3 linked regions of the Homo sapiens genome follow. The protein of the gene in region 1 purifies or fractionates together with the protein of each later gene. This does not show direct contact. Each region holds a gene or a part of one and is shown in the gene's direction. Other genes may lie near its edges. The genes, in order: GCAT, LONP1 and MCCC1.

Region 1 (3,747 bases):
TATGTTTAGTAGAGATGGGGTTTCACCATGTTGGCCAGGCTGGTCTTGAACTCCTGGCCTCAAGTGATCTCCTCCACCTTGGCCTTCCAAAGTGGAAACTGCCTTTTTGAGCATTCATTTTCCCACCTGCAAAACAGAGTCCCTCACACCTGACCTTCTATAAGAAAAGAGGAGTAGGCGGCAGGAACTGAGACTAAGGGCTCTGGGGCTGTTCTGACGGGAGCACAGTTGCCAGTGCTGCCCTTTAGTGTCCCTGTTCCTGTGGGCAAGTATCTTAACTTTTCTCTGTCTCAATTACTTCATAGGGAAAATGAAGATAATAGCACTTAATAGGATCATTACAAATTAAAGACTTAATACATGTAATGCTTAGAATAGGCCGGGCGCAGTGGCTCATGCCTGTAATCCCAGCACTTTGGGAGGCTGATGCAGGCGGATCACCTGAGGTCAGGAGTTCAAGACCAGCCTGGCCAACATGGCGAAACCCTTTCTCTACAAAAATATAAAAATTAGCTGGCATGATGGTGGGTGCCTGTAATCGCAGCCACTTGGGAGGCTGAGGCAGGAGAATCGCTTGAACCTAGGAGGTGGAGGTTGCAGTGAGCTGAGATCACGCCACTGCACTCCAGCCTGAGCAACAGAGTGAGACTCTGTCTCAAAAAAAAAAAAAAAAAAAAAAAGCATAGAACAGCCTGGCACATAGTACTGCTCAATGAATGTTGGCTATTATTTATTTTCCAAATGTTACAAAATAAATTTATATAAGTATGAAACTTAAATAGTACTTATTATGTGCCAGGAATTCTTTTAAGAAAATTACAACTATTGGCCAGGCGTGGTGGCTTATGCCTGTAATCCAGGCACTTTGGGAGGCCGAGGTGGGTGGATTACTGAGTTCAAGACCAGCCTGGCCAACATGGTGAAACCCTGTCTGTGCTAAAAATACAAAAATTAGCTGGCCGGGCTCGCTTGAACCCATGAGGCAGGGGTTGCAGTGAGCCACGACGGTGCGACCACACTCCAGCCTGGGTGACAGAGGGAAACTCTGTCTCAAAAAAAAAAAAAAAAGAACATTACAAGTATTAACTCATTAATCCTAAGTGATAGTTGCTATTCTTATTCCCGCTATTGAGATGAGGACACTGAGATCCAGAGAGGTTAAGTGACTTGCCCAGAGGCACACAGCCTGTTGTGGGATTTGAACCCTGGCTCAAGAGTCCATGCTGGCTGGGCATGGTAGTTCACACCTGTAATCCCAATACTTTTGGAGCCCAAAGCAGAAGGATCACTTGATGCCTGGAGTTTGAGACCAGCCTGGGCAACATAGCAAGACCCTCTCTCTAAAAAAAAAAAAATGTTTTTAATTAGCTGGGTGTGGTGGTGCGCACCTGTAGTCCCAGCTACTAGGGAGGGGAGGCTGAGTTGGGAGGATCACTTGAGCCCAGGAGTTCAAGGCTACAGTAAGCTATGGTCTCACTACTGCACTCCAGCCTGAGTGACAGAGAATCCCTGTCTCATTTGCCAAAAAAAAGAAAGAGTCTGTGCTCCTGACTACTTGTGATTATCATTAACTGCCCTCTCAGAAAGGTGAGAGTGAAATGAATGTCAGAGGCAGAACTCCTGACTCGCATCCAGTCACTTCCCAGCAAAGCCCTCACCCAGACCCAACAGTTTTCAAATTTACAAATTAGAGGCCCAGGTGAACCCAGAATTACCTCTGTGATCTTTTTCTTCACCATTAGGCGACCAAAAAAGACACTCAGTATGGTGTTAGGAAGACACATCTTTCTTCTCCACGAGTGCCCGTAATTCCACCATTAGACTGCCACTGTAAAACCAAAGTCTGCCCAGGGAGGGAACCTAACAGGTCCCCAGTTCCTCAGTGGGAACTGTCTGTCAGATTCCTGGCAGCTCTGGGATAGCCCATGTGTGGCAGAAAGTAAGGAGACTGAGGCTGCAGGCTTTCTGGGTTGGGTCTCTGTGGTCCTCCAAGCCTCTGTCCCCTCGAACTTGTCCCACATGACCCCACAGGCATCAACACGTGTCTCACTCATTTTCTTCAGAGCATCCACAAGAATCTAGAAGCAAAAATAGCCCGCTTCCACCAGCGGGAGGATGCCATCCTCTATCCCAGCTGTTATGACGCCAACGCCGGCCTCTTTGAGGTGTGTGGAAGCTGTCCTGCGGGTGAGGGTTGGTGGGGCCTGTTAGGCTGAGGAAGGCTTGGGTGTGGGCAGTCGGGAGAACCTAGCAGGATTCAGTGCCATGCCTAGAGGCTCCAGAGCCCGCTTCTGGAGGTCAAGGTTGGGCCAGGTAGGTGCTCCAGGAGGAATCCTGGGGCTTGCAGGGAGCCTGAGTTCCAGAGCCTTTGGGGGATAAGCTACATCAGCTGGAAGGCTGGGGGAGGCGGGGGCCTGGTACTCACCAAATATATTCTCACCTCCTCTTACTAGAGCAGGGCGCTGGTCCAGCCCGGCACTGAGACACGGGGGCCCCAGAGAGAAGCACAGAACACCTTGCCTCTCTACCCAGAGGAGCGCCCTGGCTGGCAGTACAGTTTTTTGATTTGCTGGAGTCCCGGTCAAGGGAGAAGCCCAGGGTGGTTAAATGATGGCTCTACGCTCACTGCCTCCCTCCAGGCCCTGCTGACCCCAGAGGACGCAGTCCTGTCGGACGAGCTGAACCATGCCTCCATCATCGACGGCATCCGGCTGTGCAAGGCCCACAAGTACCGCTATCGCCACCTGGACATGGCCGACCTAGAAGCCAAGCTGCAGGAGGCCCAGGTGGGGCGACGCCTGGGTCCACCCTCAGCCTCCGCCTGGGGAAGGAAGTGAGGCTTAGAGAGGCCAACTCCTCACTCACAGAGATAGCCTGAAAGTTTGAAACAGCAGAGATTTGTCCAAGATGTGAACCCAGATCCCTCACACCCAGAGCATTATTCTTTTTTTTTTTTCCCTGAGACAGAGTTTCACTCTGTCGCCAAGGCTGGAGTATAGTGGTGTGATCTCGGCTCACTGCAACCTCCACCTCCTGGGTTCAAGTGATTCTCCTGCCTCAGCCTCCCAAGTAGCTGGGATTACAGGCATCCGCCACCCCACCTGGCTAATTTTTGTATTTTTAGTAAAGACGGGGTTTCATCATGTTGTCCAGGCTGGTCTCGAACTCCTGACCTCAGTTGATTTCACCCACCTAGGCCTCCCAAAGTGCTGGGATTATAGACGTGAGCCACTGTGCCTGGCACCAGAGCATTATTCCATTGTGCCATGGTGCCTTGAGGTTTTTCCCTGTGTATGTGTGACAGTCTCACTCTGTTGCCCAGGCTGTATTGCAATGGTGCAGTCATAGCTCACTGCAGCCTCAATCTTCTGGACTCGAGCGATCCTCCCACCTCAGTCTCCTGAGTAGCTGGGACTACCGGTGCCCACCACACCCAGTTTTTTATTTATTTGTTTTTTAGATGGAATTTCACTCTTTTTGCCCAGGCTGGAGTGCAATGGCGTGATCTCAGCTCACTGAAACCTCTGCCTCCCAGGTTCAATTGATTCTCCTGCCTCAGCCTCTGGAGTAGCTGGGATTACAGGCACACACCACCGTGCTCAGCTAATTTTCTATTTTTAGTAGAGATGGGGTTTAGCCATGTTGGCCAGGCTGGTTTCGAACTCCTGACCTCAGGTGATCTACCTGTCTCAGCCTCCCAAAGTGTTGGGATTACAGGCATGAGCCACCGCACCCAGCCTGTTTGTT
Region 2 (3,747 bases), on another chromosome or scaffold:
GTTTCTGAAATTGTTAGCAAAGCTTGATTTACTCTTCAGTTTGTACTTGACTTGTCTGGCCAACTTGCTCTAGAAGCTTCTCTCCTATTAGCAACTTTTGAGTAAGGAACAATGGCTCTTAATTTTTGGTGGGTATTAAAGAATAAATCATAAGTGTTAGAAGTATTAGTTTCTTTTAAAAACTAACTTCGTGGGCTGGGCGCGGTGGCTCACGCCTGCAATCCCAGCACTTTGGGAGGCTGAGGTGGGCGGATCACGAGGTCAGGAGATCGAGACCATACTGGCTAACAAGGTGAAACCCCGTCTCTACTAAAAATACAAAAAAATTAGCCTGGAGTGGTGGTGGGCGCCCGTAGTCCCAGCTACTCGGGAGGCTGAGGCAGGAGAATGGTGTGAACCCAGGAGGCGGAGCTTGCAGTGAGCTGAGATCGCTCCACTGCGCTCTAGCCTGGGCGACAGAGCAAGACTCTGTCTTAAAAAAAAATTGCTTCCCTCCTTTGTTCAGGTGTGCTCTGCTCTCGCCATTGTTCCATCTGCGAGGAGCACCCTTTCTTCAGAAAGTAAAATTGTCTTGCTAAGAAAACTTTTTGTCCAAATGCTAATTTTTCCTTACAGTACAGAGGTACAAGCGTTCTGTCTCTAAACAAACATTTTACTTATAACAGTGGGTCACACACCCTCCTGTCAGATGTTACTGACTTTTTTTTTTCTGGGAACAGAAAAAAAAAAAATTATGTATCTATAGTGTCAGGAATTTCTGGACCACAAGTTAAGAGCCTGTGTTAGGGAGTGAGTCAAAACACTGGCTCTCAAAGGATGGTTGTGGACCAGCAGCATCGGCATCATGTGATGCTCTTTTGTTTGAAATGCAGATTTTTGGACCCACCCTAGAACTGAATCAAAAACTCCAAGGGTGGGGCCCAGCAGTGAGCTGCTTAAAGTCCTTCAGGTCATCCTGGTGCCTGCAAAAGTTTGAGGGCCATTACTATATATATATATATATATATATATATATATATATATATATGTATATTTTAACTTTATTATATAATAAAGAATTAAAAACTTCAAAAAGAAAATAGAGATGGGGTCTCACTGTGTTACCCAGGCTGGTCTCAAACTCCTGGGCTCAAGCGATCCTCCCACCTCAGCCCCGCAAAGTGCTGGGATTACAGGCATGAGCTACCATTACCAGGCTAGCCAGGCCATTACCTTTAATCAGGGTCTGTCCAGTGAATTAACAAAGGCTTGAAAGAAATCAGGTGAGCTCCTTGCGCCTTCAAATGCTTCTTAGAAGACATCATTAGCCCTGAACCTGCCGTTGAGAATGTGCTGTGATCCTGGGGGTCTTGATCATTAATGAACAGCATATGATGTGATAAGGAAGTAACTGTCAATGAAAATTGGAGGAACCAGGCATGGTGGCTCATGGCGAAACTCCGTCTCTACTAATAATACAAAAATTAGCGAGTGCAGTGGCGTGTGCTTGTAACCCCAGCTATGTGGTAGGATGAGTTGGAAGAATCGCTTGAACCTGGGAGGTGGAGGTTGCAGTGAGCCGAGATTGCACCAGTGCACTCCAGCCTGGGTGGCAGAGTGAAACTTTCTTTTTTTTTTTTTTTTTTTTTTTTTTTTTTTTTTTTATGAGACAGAGTCTCACTCTGTCGCCCAGGCTGGAGTGCAGTGGCGTGATCTTGGCTCACTGCATGCTCCGCCTCCCGGGTTCACGCCATTCTCCTGCCTCAGCCTCCCGAGTAGCTGGGACTACAGGTGCCCGCCACCACGCCCGGCTAATTTTTGTATTTTTAGTAGAGACGGGGTTTCACCGTGTTAGCCAGGATGGTCTCGATCTCCTGACCTTGTGATCTGCCCGCCTCGGCCTCCCAAAGTGCTGGGATTACAGGCGTGAGCCACCGCGCCCAGCCTGAAACTTTATTAAAAAAAAAAAAAAAAGGAAGTTATCAATCTCTGGAGTGGGTCACATTTAAATTACTTATGTTTATTCTGACATTAATAAAAGCAGAATGGTTTTGATTTTCAAACCAAGACAGTTTGCCCTGGACATCCCCTTTGAAGCTGGATGTTAAATCAATTTCTGGGTTCTGACCATTCGTCTACTTTGAATTTCCTTTGGGAGTGGGGAAACCGCTAAGAAGAATCCAGCTGGTCAGTTCTGCTCACTGTATTCACCACCACAGCCTCCTGGCCTCCAGCACTTTTTTTTTTTTTTTTTTTTTTTTGTTTAGGCGTTCCCAAACCATGTTGATTAGTATCCAGGATGCGGATCAGCATGTCCCCAGAGAATAATCTACACAGCGTTAGAGCGGCTCTGCTGTCAAAAAATGTCAGCTACAAAAGCTACCCTGGGAGGCCGGGCGTGGTAGTTTACGCCTATAATCCCAGCACTTTGGGAGGCTGAGGTGGGTGGATCACGAGGTCAGGAGTTAAAGACCATCCTGGCCAAGATGGTGAAACCCCATCTCTACTAAAAATACAAAACAATCAGCCGGACCTGGTGGCGGGCGCCTGTAATCCCAGCTACTCAGGAGGCTGAGGCAGAGAATTGCTTGATCCCGGGAGGCGGAGGTTGCAGTGAGCTGAGATCATGCCACTGCACTCCAGCCTGGGTGACAGAGCGAGACTCCGTCTCAGAAAAAAAAAAAAAAAAGAAAAGCTACCCTGTGCTGCGTTTGGTGGCTCACGCCTATAATCCCGGCATTTTGGGAGGCTGAGGTGGGTGGATCACCTGAGGTCAGGAGTTCGAGACCAACCTGGCCAATATGGTGAAACCCCATCTCTACTAAAAATAAAAAAATTAGCCAGGTGTGGTGGTGCATGCCTGTAATCCCAGCTACTCAGGAGGCTGAGGCAGGAGAATCCCTTGAACTCAGTGGGGGTGGAGGTTGCAGTGAGCTGAGATCACGCCATTACATTCCAGCCAGGGCAACAGAATGAGACTCTGTCTCAAAAAAAAAATCTACTCTGCATTTCACTTTGGGGTCATTGTCATGCTAGGTTAAAAATAAGAAGTTGGTTGAGCTGCTGAGAAGGAAAGTTCGTCTCGCCCAGCCTTATGTCGGCGTCTTTCTAAAGAGAGATGACAGGTAAGTGTGATTTTTCCTTCATTCCCTTGTTGACGGTGCCCTAGAGTCCAGCTCACCACAAGTCCTACTCTGTACTTTGCACCTTTGACCCCTGACCCCGAGGAAACCAGGGAAGACCTCCAGAATAAAGGCCAGAAGCCACGCAGGCTACCTTTTCAGCCTGGGCTGAGAACTCAGCTTGTAGTACTAAACTTCATGCATTGTTAAGATACGGGGGAAATTAACTTCAGGGACTCTTAGTGATGAAATGCTCCATGAGGCTACCTGAAAGTCGAGCTAGCTGCTCGGAGATGTGGCTCCATGTAGAAATGAGTTCCATGGGCCGGGCGTGGGGTCGCACACCTGTAATCCCAGCACTTTGGGAGGCTGAGGCATGTGGATCACCTGAGGTCAGGAGTTCCAAAGCAGTCTGGCTGACATGATGAAACCTCGTCTTTACTAAAAATACAAAACATTAGCCAGGCGTGGTGGCAGGTACCTGTAATCCCAGCTACTCAGGAGGCTGAGGAAGGAGAATCGGTTGAACCTAGTAAGTGGAGGTTGCAGTGAGCTGAGATTACACCATTGCTCTCCAGCCTGGGCAACAAGAGCGAAACTCCATCTCAAGAAAAAAAGAGTTCCATGCATGCATTCGAAGCAGGCT
Region 3 (3,747 bases), on another chromosome or scaffold:
CGCCGTGGAGCAGGGGGTGGCGCTCATCGGGGAGGCTTGGGCCGCACAGGAGCCCATGGAGTGGGTGGGAGGTTCAGGCATGGCGGGCTGCAGGTCCCGAGCCCTGCCCCGTGGGAAGGCAGCCAAGGCCCGGCGAGAAATCGAGCGCAGCGCCGGTGGGCCAGCACTGCTGGGGGACTCAGTACACCCTCCGCAGCCACTGGCCCGGGTGCTAAGTCCCCCATTGCCCGGGGTCAGCAGGGCTGGCTGGCTGTTCCGAGTGCGGGGCCCACCAAGCCCACGCCCACCCGGAACTCCAGCTGGCCCGCAAGTGCCGCACACAGCCCCAGTTCCCGCTCGTGTCTCTCCCTCCACACCTCCCTGCAAGCTGAGGGAGTGGGCTCCGGCCTTGGCCAGCCCAGAAAGGGGCTCCCACAGTGCAGTGGGGGACTGAAGGGCTCCTCAAATGCCACCAAAGTGGGAGCCCAGGCAGGGGAGGTGCCGAGAGCAAGCGAGGGTTCTGAGGACTGCCAGCACGCTGTCACATCTCAATGGGGGGTTACAAGACATGAGCCACAGCACCCAGCGTAGTTAATATTTTATTTAGAATTTTTCCACTGATACTTACATGTGAAATTGGTCTGTCGTGTGTGTGTGCGTGATATCTTTGTTGATTTTGGTATCAAAGTTATGTTTACTTTTTAAAAAGAGTTTGGAAGACTTCCATCTTTTTTGTGCTCTGGGACAGAATTAATAGCATTTGAGTCAATTACTCATTTGTGTGGAATTTTCTTGCAAGACATGGAGGGCTTTTGTAACTTTTAGGGGTGAAGGTGAAGGTGAAAGTGGGCCATGGTGGTAGCAAGGATAGTTCTTTGATAAACTTCTCTATTTTTTCTGTGGTAACGGTTTGCTTAAATTTTGTCTCTTCCAGGATCTATTTTGATAAATTGTATTTTCTTGTAACATCATCCATTTCATCCAGAGTTTTAAGTTCACTTGAAGTTAAGCAAAATTAGCATCTTACAAATCTATAATTTGTTTCCTGTGTCTGTGATTTTCCCCTGCTTGTTTTTTAAATCATGTCAAATGTGCATTTTTCTCTATTTCTGATTAGATAACTATTTTATTTTTTGTGAACCTGTGGGTTTATTAGTCCTTTGACACTGGTTTCCTGAATTCATTTATTTATTCCTTTATCTTCCCTAATTTCTCCCTCCTGCTTTCCTCATGAAGCATCTACATGTAGTGTTTACAGTTTCTTTATTCTCTAGATGTTCCTCAGTTTGCTCTTTGACTTCCTCTTTTTCCCAATAGTCAGTTAGAATACCTGTTTTAAGCTCAGGTGGTTTAAAGATTTTCACTTTAGCTTATTTATTTTTTCATCCCTGAGAGCACTAGAGAATTGTGTATCCTGCTGTCCATCCGCATTTGGCTTCTTCCCCAGGGTTCTTCTCCCAGAAGGTGACGAGAGCGAAGAAACCCCACGGGATGCAGGAAGAAACAGTGACAGGCAACCAAGAGGGGGAGGATGGAGAAAACCCTTGCCTTAGTCAGAGCAGGCCCCAGGGGACGCAGAAACAAAGGCCACACCCCCACGAGCACGTGGCCAGACTGCCCAATCGTCGCTACTGAAGCCGGGCTCTGGTCTTTGATTGGTGTTCGTGGAGACGCCCTCACATTCTTGGATCAGCCCAAAGGTAGGCTCAGGCTCCGACGGTGGCCGGCGGGGGTCACGAGGCTTCGTAGTGGAGGAACGGGTTTGGCGTGTGGGACGCAGCTGCCTCTGTACTGGGGAGTCACGGAGTGGCCGGGCTCCAGGGACATGGCGGCGGCCTCTGCGGTGTCGGTGCTGCTGGTGGCGGCGGAGAGGAACCGGTGGCATCGTCTCCCGAGCCTGCTCCTGCCGCCGAGGTGGGTGGAGGGGCCATGGCTCAGTGGGCAGAGGCGGGAGCGAGGGGTGCACGGACCCGCGTGAGCGGTGGGAGGTGCGGCGGAACCCAGGGTCGGTGTGGGGAGGACGGTAGGAAAACCCCAGGCACTTTCGGAGGGGTTCTGCCGGCAGTCACGGCGTCGGGAGGAAGACATCCCCACCAGCCCTTCCCTTTCTCCCCGCTTCCGCACATCCACGCTTCAGCGCGCCTTTGGCTTCTGTTTTTCCATTTCTGAGGACTGGGCCCGCCATCCTCCAGGCTCCCCTCGCCGTCGCTGCAGCTCGTAGCCGTTTACATCGGGCTTTCGCAGCACCCCTTAGGTGGGAGCGTTGTTATAATCCGGTTCCGGGGAAGCCCAAAGGGATCAACGACTTCCTCAACGAAACACAGCTAGTAAGAAATGGGGCCGGGATGCCCTCAAAGCCATTTTTCAGTTCAGCTGTGCCCCATCAGGTGTCCAGTTCAGAGAAAGACTCCTGGAGTTCCTTCTCATTGTTAGAAGAGTGAAGTTGTCAAGAAGAGCAAATGTACCTTCCACAGAGCTGGGAAATTATTTTGTCAAAAACTCTTGTACCCAAGTTTGAACAACGCTATCAGATGACTCAGTCTAGCTCACCTGACTCCAGCTCTGTTTCAAATTTTGAGCTCTAAGCTTTGGTGGCAATAACTCTGGCAGTGAAAAAACCCTCAGGCTTGTAGATAGCTTTGCTTCTTTGTCTTCTTTTGCTTCATCGTTATCATCCTTCATCATTCTGGAAAGATTGACAGTTTAGTGTTCAAGGGCACAGACTCTGCAGTCAAGGCTGAGGTCTTAGTTAGCTACTCACTAGGTGTGTGACTTTGGGTAAGTTACTTAATATTTCTTCTTTAATTTCCTCACCTTGGAGATGATACGAGTACCTTGGGTTGTGAAAACTAAATGAATTAATTCATGGAATGAGGTTTAAGCACAATCTGGTACATAAGATCAGTCTATAAATGCAAACTCAACCATTTATATGAACGTTTGCTTGCTTTTATTTTCCAGAAATATTGTAGATGCCCTTTTTAGTTACTTAATTGTAGGAGTGCCCCAGAGAAACATAAGAAAGTTGTTGGAAGTTGGCGGGGCGCGGTAGCTCACGCCTGTAATCGCAGCACTTTGGGACGCCGAGGCGGGCAGATCACGAGGTCAGGAGATCGAGACCAACCTGGATAACACGGTGAAACCCCGTCTGTACTAAAAAATACAAAAAATTTAGCCGGGCGTGGTGACACGCGCCTATAGTCCCGCCTGTTAGTCCCAGCTACTCGGGAGGCTGAGGCAGGAGAATGGTGTGAACCCAGGAGGCGGAGCTTGCAGTGAGCTAAGATCACGCCACTGCACTCCAGCCTGGGCGACAGAGTAAGACTCCGTCTCAAATAAAAAATAAAAAAATAAAAAAAAAAGTTGGTGTAAGTAATGTTAATGTTCTTCTTGTTCTTCTGGTTTTTCTTTTCTTAGGCCTCCAGGGCTCTTCAGGATAGTACCATAGACCCATTTCCTGTCTTCCCTTTCAAAGCTTAGCTATTGTCTAAAGAACTATCCTCAAGTATGTCACTCTGGAGAGTGTTAGAGTTGTTAATGGCTTATAGAAGTAAAACTCTTTGCCAGGAGACTTGGTTCATGCCTGTATTTTCAGCAGTTTCTCAGCACTGTGGGATCCAAGGTGGGAGGATTGCTTGAGTTCAAGAGTTCAAGACCAGCCTGGGCAACACAGTGAGGCTTCATCTCTACAAAACATTAAAAAATTAGCCAGGCGTAGTGGCACACACTTGTAGTCACAGCTACTTGGGAGGATGAGGAGGGCGAGGA

The links.
Region 2: the proteins of GCAT (region 1) and LONP1 purify together in Homo sapiens (affinity purification with mass spectrometry; 3 studies listed by BioGRID and IntAct, with this or other methods). This does not show direct contact.
Region 3: the proteins of GCAT (region 1) and MCCC1 purify together in Homo sapiens (affinity purification with mass spectrometry; 3 studies listed by BioGRID and IntAct, with this or other methods). This does not show direct contact.

What each region holds. Positions count from the first base shown.
Region 1 is NC_000022.11:37,810,824-37,814,570, forward strand, and holds part of GCAT (2-amino-3-ketobutyrate coenzyme A ligase, mitochondrial isoform 2 precursor), read left to right. Parts: intron 1-2,063; coding exon 2,064-2,165; intron 2,166-2,453; coding exon of another isoform or gene 2,454-2,639; coding exon 2,640-2,786; intron 2,787-3,747. UniProt on the Homo sapiens protein: Pyridoxal phosphate (PLP) dependent enzyme, which catalyzes the cleavage of 2-amino-3-oxobutanoate to glycine and acetyl-CoA.
Region 2 is NC_000019.10:5,713,540-5,717,286, reverse strand, and holds part of LONP1 (lon protease homolog, mitochondrial isoform 1 precursor), read left to right. Parts: intron 1-3,015; coding exon 3,016-3,104; intron 3,105-3,747. UniProt on the Homo sapiens protein: ATP-dependent serine protease that mediates the selective degradation of misfolded, unassembled or oxidatively damaged polypeptides as well as certain short-lived regulatory proteins in the mitochondrial matrix.
Region 3 is NC_000003.12:183,097,498-183,101,244, reverse strand, and holds the start of MCCC1 (methylcrotonoyl-CoA carboxylase subunit alpha, mitochondrial isoform 1 precursor), read left to right. Parts: upstream 1-1,748; 5' UTR 1,749-1,804; coding exon 1,805-1,893; intron 1,894-2,001; exon of another isoform or gene 2,002-2,757; intron 2,758-3,747.